Regions from separate parts of the Homo sapiens genome. Here region 2 is linked to region 1. A link means that fine-mapping ties the variant in region 1 to the expression of a gene that starts in the linked region. Tissue or cell type: blood mononuclear cells. Region 1 holds a variant in brackets; the other region holds the start of a gene. All regions are shown on one strand. Distances are from middle to middle.

Region 1 (5,147 bases):
TGTACTCCAGCTTGGCAACAGGGTGAGACTCTGTCTCAAAAAAAAAGCAACAAAACCACATATGGGGTACAGTGTACAATGCTCAGGTGACAGGTGTTCCAAAATCCCAGAAATCACCAGTAAAAAAACTAATCCATATAACCAAAAACCACCTGTACCCCTAAAACTCTTGAAATAATTAAAAACAACAAAAAGATTAAGAGTCTACAGGGCTGTACAAGATAGCAGGGGGCTTCACAGGTTCTTTCTTCCTTTCCTTTCCCTTTCCCTTTCTCTTTGCCTTTCCCTTTCCCTTCCTTTCTTTTCTATCTATCTTTCCTTTTTTTTTTTTTAGATGCAGTCTCTTTTTTTTTTTTTTTTTTTTGAGTCAAAGTCTCGCTCTTGTCCCCTAGGCTGGAGTGCAATGGTGCGATCTCAGCTCACTGCAACCTCTGCCTTCCAGGTTCAAGGGATTCTCCTGCCTCAGTCTCCTGAGCAGCTCGGACTACAGGCGCATGCCACCACACCTGCCTAATTTTTGTATTTTTAATAGAGATGTGGTTTCACCATGTTGGCCAGGATGGTCTTGAACTCCTGACCTCAGGTGATCCGCACACCTCTGCCTCCTAAAGTGCGGGGATTACAGATGTAAGCCATCATGCCGCACCCCACAGGTTGTTTCTAATGCATGGGTAACTAACCTGATTTCTCTATATGAATTTATATTTGTGTCCTTTTCACTTGTTAAATAATTCTGTCTTGTTCTTTAGGTTCATGGGTGTATGTGTTCATCAAGGACAATTGCATGCACTTACAGAGGTAAGACATCAGTAAGTGTTGAAGTAACGTATTTGCCTTAGTTTCAGCATTTATAGTTCCATAGTAAGTGTTGCTTGCATATGTAAACAAAATGTATGTGCATTTATGTTTATGCAAAAATGGCAGTGTTAATAATGCTTTATTCTGTTGCCTGGGAACAATGGCAGTATTTCTTTATATATATATATATATATATATATACACACACACACACATACACTTTAAGTTCTGGGGTACATGTGCAGAATGGGCAGTATTTCTTAATGTCCTTCTATTCCCTCATAATACTTGGTGAATACTCTGACAATATGAGTGCTCAAGTATTAAAGTATTAAGTTAGCTCTTGCTGCCTAGATATGACTCCATCCTAAGCCAAGGGATGACAGCACTTGACTGCAAACTCTCTATGGCAACAAATTACCAGACCACCTGGTAATGTTTGCTGTCCTGATCTAGAATTCCACAGTCCCTGCTGTGGTTTCCTGGTTGGTCTTATTACTTGTTGGAATCAGTTTACATCTTCATTCTCGTTTCATTTCCAGCCTCTGCTAGGCGGAATATGTGATAGTCATTATTCATCCTCCGAGGATCAGAGAACTCTCTTTAGAGCCAATTCAGGTACCAAGTTATCAACTTCAGACCTTGCTTGGGTGCTCCTTGGAAACACAGATTCCTGGAATCTTCTAGGTTTAATAGGTTTGTATAGGGCCTATTACATCTATATTTTTAAAAGCTCCTCAGATTATTTCATGAGCATCTGGATTTGAGAATCTATGTTCTAGATTCTTTTCACATTCCTCCTTGAGAAGCAATTACCAAAGTACAAAGTGAAGAAACTTAGGAAGGAAAGTTGTTTAACAGAATTTGCAAGAGTGTTGGTTTTTTACTGGCTTGGTAACTGGTATTAGTCCTTAATAGCTTATGAAAGAGGGTCCCATGTGCCTCAGTCTCTCTCTTTTCTCAGTTACTGAAGGCACTAGAATGTGGAATGTGTGCAGCTATGCCCTGCCTCTTAAATGGAAAGCCAAAGAAGACAGAATGGTGAAGAGGTTAAGAGCATGGCCTCTGAAGTCTTGATTACATACGTTTGAATCTGTCTGTATCTCAAAGTTTCCATCTGTATAATGGGGATAATAATAATTAATAATACCTGCCCCAGGGAGTTTAGATAGAGAAGATGACCAAGAGCTGAGCCCTAGAATATTTGGGAGTCTGAGGTGAGAGGATTACCTAAGACCAGGATTTCGAGACCAGCCTGGGCAAC[A/G]TAGCAAGGCTCTGTCTCTACAAAAAAAAAAAAAAAAAAAAAAAAAAAAAAAAATTAATAATTAGCTGGATGTGATGGCATGTACCTGTAGTCCTATTTACTCAGGAGTCTGGGGCAGCAAGATTGCTTGAGCCCAGGAGTTTGAGGCTATAGTGAGCCATGATTGTGCCACTGCACTCCAGCCTGGGCAACAGAGTGAGACCCTGTCTCTAGATACATAGATAGATAGATAGATAGATAGATAGATAGATAGATAGACAGATAGATAGATAGATAGATAGATACGTACGTACATACATACATACATACATACATACATACATAGAGTGAGACCCTGTCGATAGATAGATAGATGAATGAATGAATGAAAGTCTGGGGAGAAGGACAGACTGAGAAGGAGCAGTTAGTGAGGTAGGTAGAAAACCAGAAGAACGTGCTGGCCTGTAATGAAAAGGAAAGAGTTTCAAGGAAGGAGTATTAATTGTGGCAAATGCTGTTGATATAATGTTGACCTCACAAGGATGTTGGGAGGATGAAATATAAAATACTTATTTAGTACAGTGCCTGGCATGTATAAATTATTTAATACATGTTAACTCTTTGAACAAAATAACAGTGACTAGTCCCTCTTCTGAACTCTGAATTGTTAATATTTTTCATTTTGTACTTAGTCCTATACCGCTGTTAGTGTCATTAAATTAGACTTTTTACTGAAGTATAACATATCAGAAAAAGTATACATATGAAAAGTACCACTCACAAAATTTTTACAAATGAACACACCCATAACCAGCACCCCAGATCAAGAAACATTTGCCATGTATTTTTTTTCTTGGAAGTGAGTCTATAAATTCTTCAGAGATAAAATTCTCCCCTTCCTTCTGTCTACCAGAGTTCTGACGCTAACAAGCATAAAAGTATTTGATGCATTCCCTGCATGTGTGATTGTTCTCTGAAATGTGAATTCATTGGAAGGGCTGGTGTGTTAATTTTGCCGACAGAGAAGAACATCCTTTAAAATCTGTGTTAAGTTGCATATTTTAAAGCAGGTTGTGGTGGAAATGACAGTAATGAGTGATCATAATGCAATATTCTCTTGGCCATGTTGTACTTAATCTGCTGCTTGTTAGCTTCTTTATAGCCATATAAAACATACAATGTGTACTTTATGGAAGAGTATTTATTGCCAGTCTTTCCAGCAGCATTAATGAGATTTTGACATAGCTTATGATATTAGTAATTTTTAATATGATGTTAATAGACTGGTAGTGATGAAGCCCAAATAGCCAAATGCTCTTGGTTATTTTTAGAAGGGATCAGCAAAGGCCTTGATGGCATAGGTCTTTCGAGACTTCTAGGTTTAATTGCCTTATAATTTGACTTGGCAGCACAACTATATGGTAAGGATAATAAAAAATAAATTATTAAAAATATCTAGCACAGTCCTTGAAACTTAGATGACATTCACCAAATACTTTTCAGTTGGTGGAATGCTTGTCCTCCAAAGTAATGTGAGTACCATTCTTCATTTCTCTTCACATTTATTTGTCAATAATTACAGTAGACAAGCATGGCACTCATTAATACCTATAAAACATTGACATTATTAGGAAGAATATTTCCCATATACATTAGTGATCTGGACTTTCCTGGGCTTGAACCATTTCCATGAGTCTTCTTTGTAATTGTAGACATTAATTGAACTTGGAACAGTCAGACACTTAGTTTTTATTTTTAAACTACCTGTAGTAATGATAGACTAAAGATTTTTTTTTTGGGGGGACGGAGTTTCACTCTTGTTGCCCAGGCTGGAGTGCAATGGCCCGATCTCAGCTCACTGCAATCCACCTCCCAGATTCAAGCAATTCTCCTGCCTCAGCCTCCTGAGTAGCTGGGATTACAGGCATGCGCCACCATGACCGGCTAATTTTGTATTTTTAGTAGAGACGGGGTTTCTCCATGTTGGTCAGGCTGGTCTTGAACTCCTGACCTCAGGTGATCCGCCTGCCTTGGCCTCCCAAAGTGCTGGGATTACAGGTGTGAGCCACCGCGCCCGGCCAGCTGACTCAAGTTTTTAAGCAAACTAGTATTTGTTAAAGTGAAAGCATAGTCTGGGCATGGTAGTTCACGCCTGTAATCCCAACACTTCCAGAGGCCAAGGTGGGCAGATTGCTTGAGCTCAGAAATTTGAGACCAGCCTGGGCAACATGGCAAAAGCCTGTCTCTACAAAAAATACAAAAATTAGTCAGGTGTGGTAGCATGCACCTGTAGTCCCAGCTATTGGAGAGGCTGAGGTAGGAGGATCACCTGAGCCCAGGAGGTTGAGGCTGCAGTGAGCCATACTTGCACTACTGTATTCCAGCCTTGGTGACAGAGCAAGACCCTGTTTCAAAAAATATATAGTGAAAACGGTTTGGTGAAAAGTCACATGAAACCTTTTAAATTTAATGAGTTGAAATATGAATCTGTATTGAGGCTGGGTGCAGTGGCTCATGCCTATAATCCCAACACTTTTAGGAGGTAGAGGCAGAAGGATTGCCTGAGGCCATGATTTTGAAACCAGCCTTGGCAACATAGTGAGACCCAGACTCTACAAAAAATTAAAAAAATCAGCCAGATGTGGTGATACACACCTACAGTCTCAGCTACTTGGGAGGCTGAGACAGGATGATTGCTTGAGCCCAGGAGGTTGAAGGTTGAGAATGCAATGAGCCATGATTGTACCACTGCACTTCAGCCTGAGCAACAGAGAGAGACCTCTTAAAAAAAAAAAAAAAAAAAAAAAAGAATAGGAATGTACCATAAGTATGTCTTTCATTCACAAGACCTAACCTTGTCTTTCACTTAGTCACAAGTATCAGGGAAGTGTAAATCTTTGTTTTTTTTTTAACAGAAAATATAATTCTGTGTATTGGTTAGCTGTTGCCCTCCAGCCACAAAACCTCAAAAGCATACAATAAACGTTTATTTCTCATACATTTCCAGAGTTAGCTGAACTGAGTGGGGCTAGATTTGGCAGTTGTGCTGATCTCAGGCTCACTCATGCATCTGCAGGTCAGCTGGTGGTCTGCTCTAGGCTGAAAT
Region 2 (5,147 bases), 44 kb after region 1:
GCTGCCCGCTGCTTCCCATTTTCCCGTTCACTGCAACAGCGCAAGAGGGTAATGGTCCACTAGCATATAAGCTCCATAAGAGCAGGGTTTTGTGGTCTGTTTTGTTCACTGCTGAATCCTCAGCACCTAAAACACTGCCTGGGCACATGGTAGGAGCTCAATAAATATCTTAAGTGAATGAAATAAACTCGTATCAGGCCCCACCCCTTTCCCTCAACCATTTCCTCACCATTTCCGGAAGGCATATTCTAAGTAGGAGGCCACGAAACGGGCATGAAACTCAGCAGCATATTTGGTGTCATAAATGCCTGCTGGGAACATCTCACACAGGTCAGCGGTGAAGGTTCCCAGACTCTCAGGGAGGTGTGCATAGAAGTTCTGGTACAGGAACACCAAGTCTATAAGGCCATTGTGTAGCACCAGGGGCCGGCGGGCTCGGATTAGCTCCAGGAATAGGGTCCGTACTGACTGGCTCTGGCTCTCATCACCCTAGATGAAAGTAAAGGGGTCAATGAGGAGGACAGAGTCCCCCAGGGAGCCTCTTCTGCTGGGCACTTATCCCAGACTTCCCCACTTGGAACGCTCTCTCTCTACCTTACCCAATGCTGCCCACCCTCCTCATACCAGTCTTGTTTCCCAAGCCCTGTCACTAGTGATTCCCCATACTCCCTAAGAAGCAGATTCTCCCCAGACATCCAGCCTAGGGTAGGAAGAAATAAAGTCACAGAAAGGGCAGACTCAAGGCTAGGGAGGCTAGAGGCCTACCTTGTCATTGCCCTTATGGTAGGGGATGCCTTGGGCATACTGCTGGTTGAAGTTGAAGCCATGCTGTATCAGGAACTGCACAGACTTTGGTTCTATGACATACTCCTCCATGCACAGCAGAGTGAGATTGAACACTTGAGCCAGATAGGAATGTTCACCCTGGGAGAAAGAGAAGTCTGCTATATCAAGATTTCAGAGAGCCAAGCTAGGAGGATGCAAAAGCTTAAGAATGATACAATGGACTCTGGGGACTCAGGGGGGAAAGGATGGAGGCAGGTGAGGGATAAAAGACTACGCATTGGGCACAGTGTACACTGGGTGATAGGTGCACCAAAATCTCAGAAATTGCCACTAAAGAACTTACTCATTTAACCAAACACCACCTGTTCCCCATAAACCTATTCAAATAAAAAAAAAAAAACTATCAAGTCAAAAAAAAAGATTTGGGAGAGAAATGCTTCCTATCTGATGTTCCCTAGAATCTCTCTACCCTCCACCCCACAGCCACACCTAGGATTGGGGTGAGATCAGCTCATACCTTGTCTGGCTGCCGCTTGAAGCAGGCGAGGCCCAGGGAAAGGATAGAACGGGTCCTGGCAGCATGACACACGGCCTTGTAACGTTCCTCAATGCACCTTGGGGTTGGGTATGGGGGTTGCTGTGGCTAGGAGTTAGCCTTATGAAGGACCCAAACCACCCAGGTCTGTGACCCCCCCACTCCACAGTTGAGGGCTGGCACTAAAGAGAAAAGGGCTTATACTTACTGGTTCAGCAAACTCTTCCTGTCCCCAAGCCCACTCAGCTCCTGTGGGTAGGTAAAGGGAGAGTTGTGACAGGCCTCTAGCACCAGCCCCTTCACAACCACCTGCCCTCCTTGTTTCCCAACTCTCACCGTGTCCACAGCCACGAAATTAGCTGTCTTTATGGCTAGCAGGAGGGATGGCCACATCTCCTTGAAGTTGTTGCTTTGCACATCCACTACGGGAACCTGGACTACTAGCTCCTCCCCAGATGTTGTGCTTTTGCTGACACCACCTGGGGGTTAGGAGGGTGATGGATGTTCATGCTTAAGGAAAGAGCCCAGGGGAACAGACACCAAGCTAGGCCACGGTGATGGTGGTAAGGGGGGTAGTTTCCATTGGTAGCTTTTCCCACAAGCCTTTGTAACCCACGTGTTCTACACACAGGCCTTGGAGTGGAGAATGCCCTGAATTTGGGGAGAGGAAGCCTGAGTCTTCTACTGGCTTGTATGAGCCTGGGTAAATTACTTCCCACCTCGCTTTCACAATCTGTAGAGGAGAAAGTTGGACTAGACGACCTTTGATTCTTTTTTCCCATGTCCTGCAGGAAACATTTTGTAGGGCTTGAGGATCTCAGCTCCCTTAATATCCCACAGGGATCCATACTACTGTTCTCATGGTGCCCCAGCGCCACAAGCAACAGCTCCCAGTAAGCCCCAGAGCCTGGCAGTGCCCCACACCAGAGCTCCCAATACGTCCTACCTTCCTTTGGATCACAACGCTCAATCCACTCCACTGAACTGAATCACAACTATTACTACTAACCGTTATGAGCTCCAGACTACATCTCCCGCCATGCCTCCATCAGCCCCATGCTCCCAACGCTCCAGGCTTTTGCAGCCGGAGCCGCGGTGTACAACGGAACTTGTAGTCTCCTCGTGGCTAGTTCAGGCGGAAGGAGCAGTCCTCTGAAGCTTGAGGAGCCTCTAGAACTATGAGCCCGAGGCCTTCCCCTCTCCCAGAGCGCAGAGGCTTTGAAGGCTACCTCTGGGAAGCCGCTCACCGTCGGAAGCTGCGGGAGCTGAAACTGCGCCATCGTCACTGTCGGCGGCCATGACACCGCTCGTCTCCCGCCTGAGTCGTCTGTGGGTACGCTGGACTTGCGGTCCGTCTCCTGGCGCGGTTCAGGCAGTCGGGGATGGGGCGGGGTCTCGCCGTCGGGTCGCCGATGGGTCGAACTTCCGTTCAGACGTCCCGGGTCCGGCGCGGGGAAGGCAGCCTGGCGCGCGCTAATTGCCTATTGGCCTGTGCTGCCGGCTCGCAGCCCGGGTGGACCCGAGCCACGCCCCCTGGAGTGCGCCGGAAAGCCGGGCGCGCTAGAGCTCGCGGGAGGTAATCTTTCTCTCCTGCTCTCGCGGCGGGAACGCGGGGCCTCCGTGTTCTGCTGTCTTCATCAGCGTGGGCCGCGGGTAGCGGGTAGTGGGGTGGCTGGGTTTGGGCTTTCCAGAGAAGGTGACGCTGCCTGAGCTGAGCTTAAAGCACGCCCAGGAGTTAGACTAGGAGAGGGTCGTGTGGGGGAAAGAAGGGCGTTCTGGGCATCGGTAAATTCCCAGAGAGGATGGAGAGCTCAGTGATCTCCAGAAAGTGAAAGAGGCGGGGAGTGGGCCATCGGAGGAGGCTGCCCAGGGTGTAAGAGCGACCGATTGGTAGGGAAGCTTTTGTAATAATCCAATCAAGTGATAATGTGAACTTGAATTAAGGCTGGCAGTATGGATGGCGAGGAAGGGACAAATTGTGAAGCAGCTAGGCGGTATAGTCGACCTAGAGGGTGATTGAATTTGAAAGAGGTTCCTAGGCCGGGCGCGGTGGCTCACGCCTGTAATCCCAGCACTTTGGGAGGCCGAGGCGGGCGGATTACCTGAGGTCCGGAGTTCAAAACCAGCCTGGCCAACATGGTGAAACCCCGTCTCTACTAAAAGTACAAAAAAAATTAGCTGGGTATGGTGCGGGCGCCTGTAATCCCACTACTTGGGAGGCTGAGGCAGGAGAATCGCTTGAACCTGGGAGGCAGAGGTTGCGGTGAGCCGAGATCACGCCATTTTGCACTTCAGCCTAGGCAACAAGAGCGAAACTCCGTCTCAAAAAAAAAAAAAAAAAAAAAATTCCTATTGGAGACTAGTCCCTCCGTAAACACTACGATTCCCATCCACCTCTGCCTTCCAGTGCTCCTTTGTTACTCATTGTTTATAGTTAATCTTCAGCTTCTCTCAACTGAGCCCATTTCATCATTATTCAGAACTGCTTGGGCCGGGCGCAGTGGCTTATGGCCTGTAATCATCTTAGGAGGCCAAGGTGGGAGGATCGCTTGACCCTAGGAGTTCAAGACTAGCCTGGGCAACATAGTGAAACCTTGTCTCTACAAAAAGAAAATTAAAAATTAGTTGGGCATGGTGGTGCGCACCTGTAGTCCCAGCTACAGGAGGCTGAGGTGAGAGGATGGCTTGAGCCCAGGAGGTCGAGGCTGCAGTGAGCCATGTTCTTATTGCACTCCAGCCTGAGTGGCAGAGCAGCAAAGTGAGGGACACACTGTCTCTAAAAACAAAACAAACAAACAAAAAAAAAACAAAAATAAAAAAACTCTTTGGATTTCTCCTATCCTAAAAAAGGGAAACTCTTTTGACTATCCCCCATCCCATTAATTCATTTAACAGGTATCTATTGTGTACAGTTTACCTGGCACTGACTTTGGACACACACCAATCAACAAGAGAATCAGTCCTTGCACTCAAGTCGTTTTTTACAGTCAAATTCAGGAAGTACACACTGATGGAAAGAATCAAAGTAATGTAAAATTACATTAGGTAAGAGCTACAAGGCAGAAATATGTGATAGGATAAGATGAGGGGACCTGATTTGGACATTTCAGTCAAGACTTGAAAAATGATAAGGTGTTAGGTAAAAGCATAAAAGAGTCCAAACAGAGGAAATGGATTGTGTGAGGCCCCAAGGTGGGCAGACACACTTGAGGTGTTTAAGCAACTAAATTCAGTCAACCTTGGCTAGAGCATAGTGAGGGGATGAGGCGGATGGTGCCCGGATCACTGGACCTGCAAGGCTGTAGTAAGAGGACTGCCTTCTAAGAGCAAGGGTGTGGCAGCCAAATCCCTCCAATGGCCTATAAGGTACTTTGTGACCCTCCTCTCCCCACCTCATCTGGTTTACTTCTCTGACCTCTTCTACCACTCAGTCCCATCTCATTCCATTCTAACCACATTGACCTACTTACTGTACCACAGACATACCAGGCACCCTCCTTGGGGCCTTTGCACTCACTTAGAATGCTTTGGGTCTACCTTGACCACAGTCTTTAAAATTGCAACATTAAACCCCACCTTGGCACTCTTTTTTTTCCCCTCTTGGTCTAATTTTTGCTTTTTATGCTAATATTTATCACCTAACATCTTATGGAATTTACTTATGTTCATTATTCCTTTTCTGTCCCCATTAGAATATAAGCTCCCTGAGGGCAGGAACTTTTGATGTTTTATTTACTGAAGTATGCCAAGTGCCTAAAACTGCTTGGCACATATTAGGGGGCTCTATAAATATTTGCTCAATCTTTTTTTTTCTTTAAGAGACAAG

What was found. PIP is the estimated chance that this variant, and not a neighbour inherited with it, causes the effect.
Region 2: it holds the start of MUTYH, and the variant in region 1 is fine-mapped to the expression of MUTYH in blood mononuclear cells (TOPMed, PIP above 0.99). The same link has a PIP of 0.9 or more in nasal epithelium.

The regions. Positions count from the first base shown.
Region 1 is chr1:45,381,563-45,386,709 of GRCh38, reverse strand. TESK2 (testis associated actin remodelling kinase 2) reads left to right here. Exons shown (of 11, transcript NM_007170.3): 4 at 750-798. Among named protein-coding and RNA genes, the nearest start is that of TOE1, 44 kb to the right of the region's middle. The variant A/G (reference allele first, on the strand shown) is at 2,063.
Region 2 is chr1:45,337,726-45,342,872 of GRCh38, reverse strand. MUTYH (mutY DNA glycosylase) reads left to right here and starts at 2,903. Exons shown (of 16, transcript NM_001048174.2): 1 at 2,903-2,974. It overlaps TOE1 (target of EGR1, exonuclease), which reads right to left and starts at 2,703. Exons shown (of 8, transcript NM_025077.4): 1 at 2,569-2,703; 2 at 1,658-1,800; 3 at 1,530-1,570; 4 at 1,304-1,400; 5 at 766-924; 6 at 230-489; 7 at 1-30. The coding sequence starts at 2,620. RefSeq lists enhancers at 1,378-2,044, 2,343-2,692, 2,045-2,713, 2,714-3,381.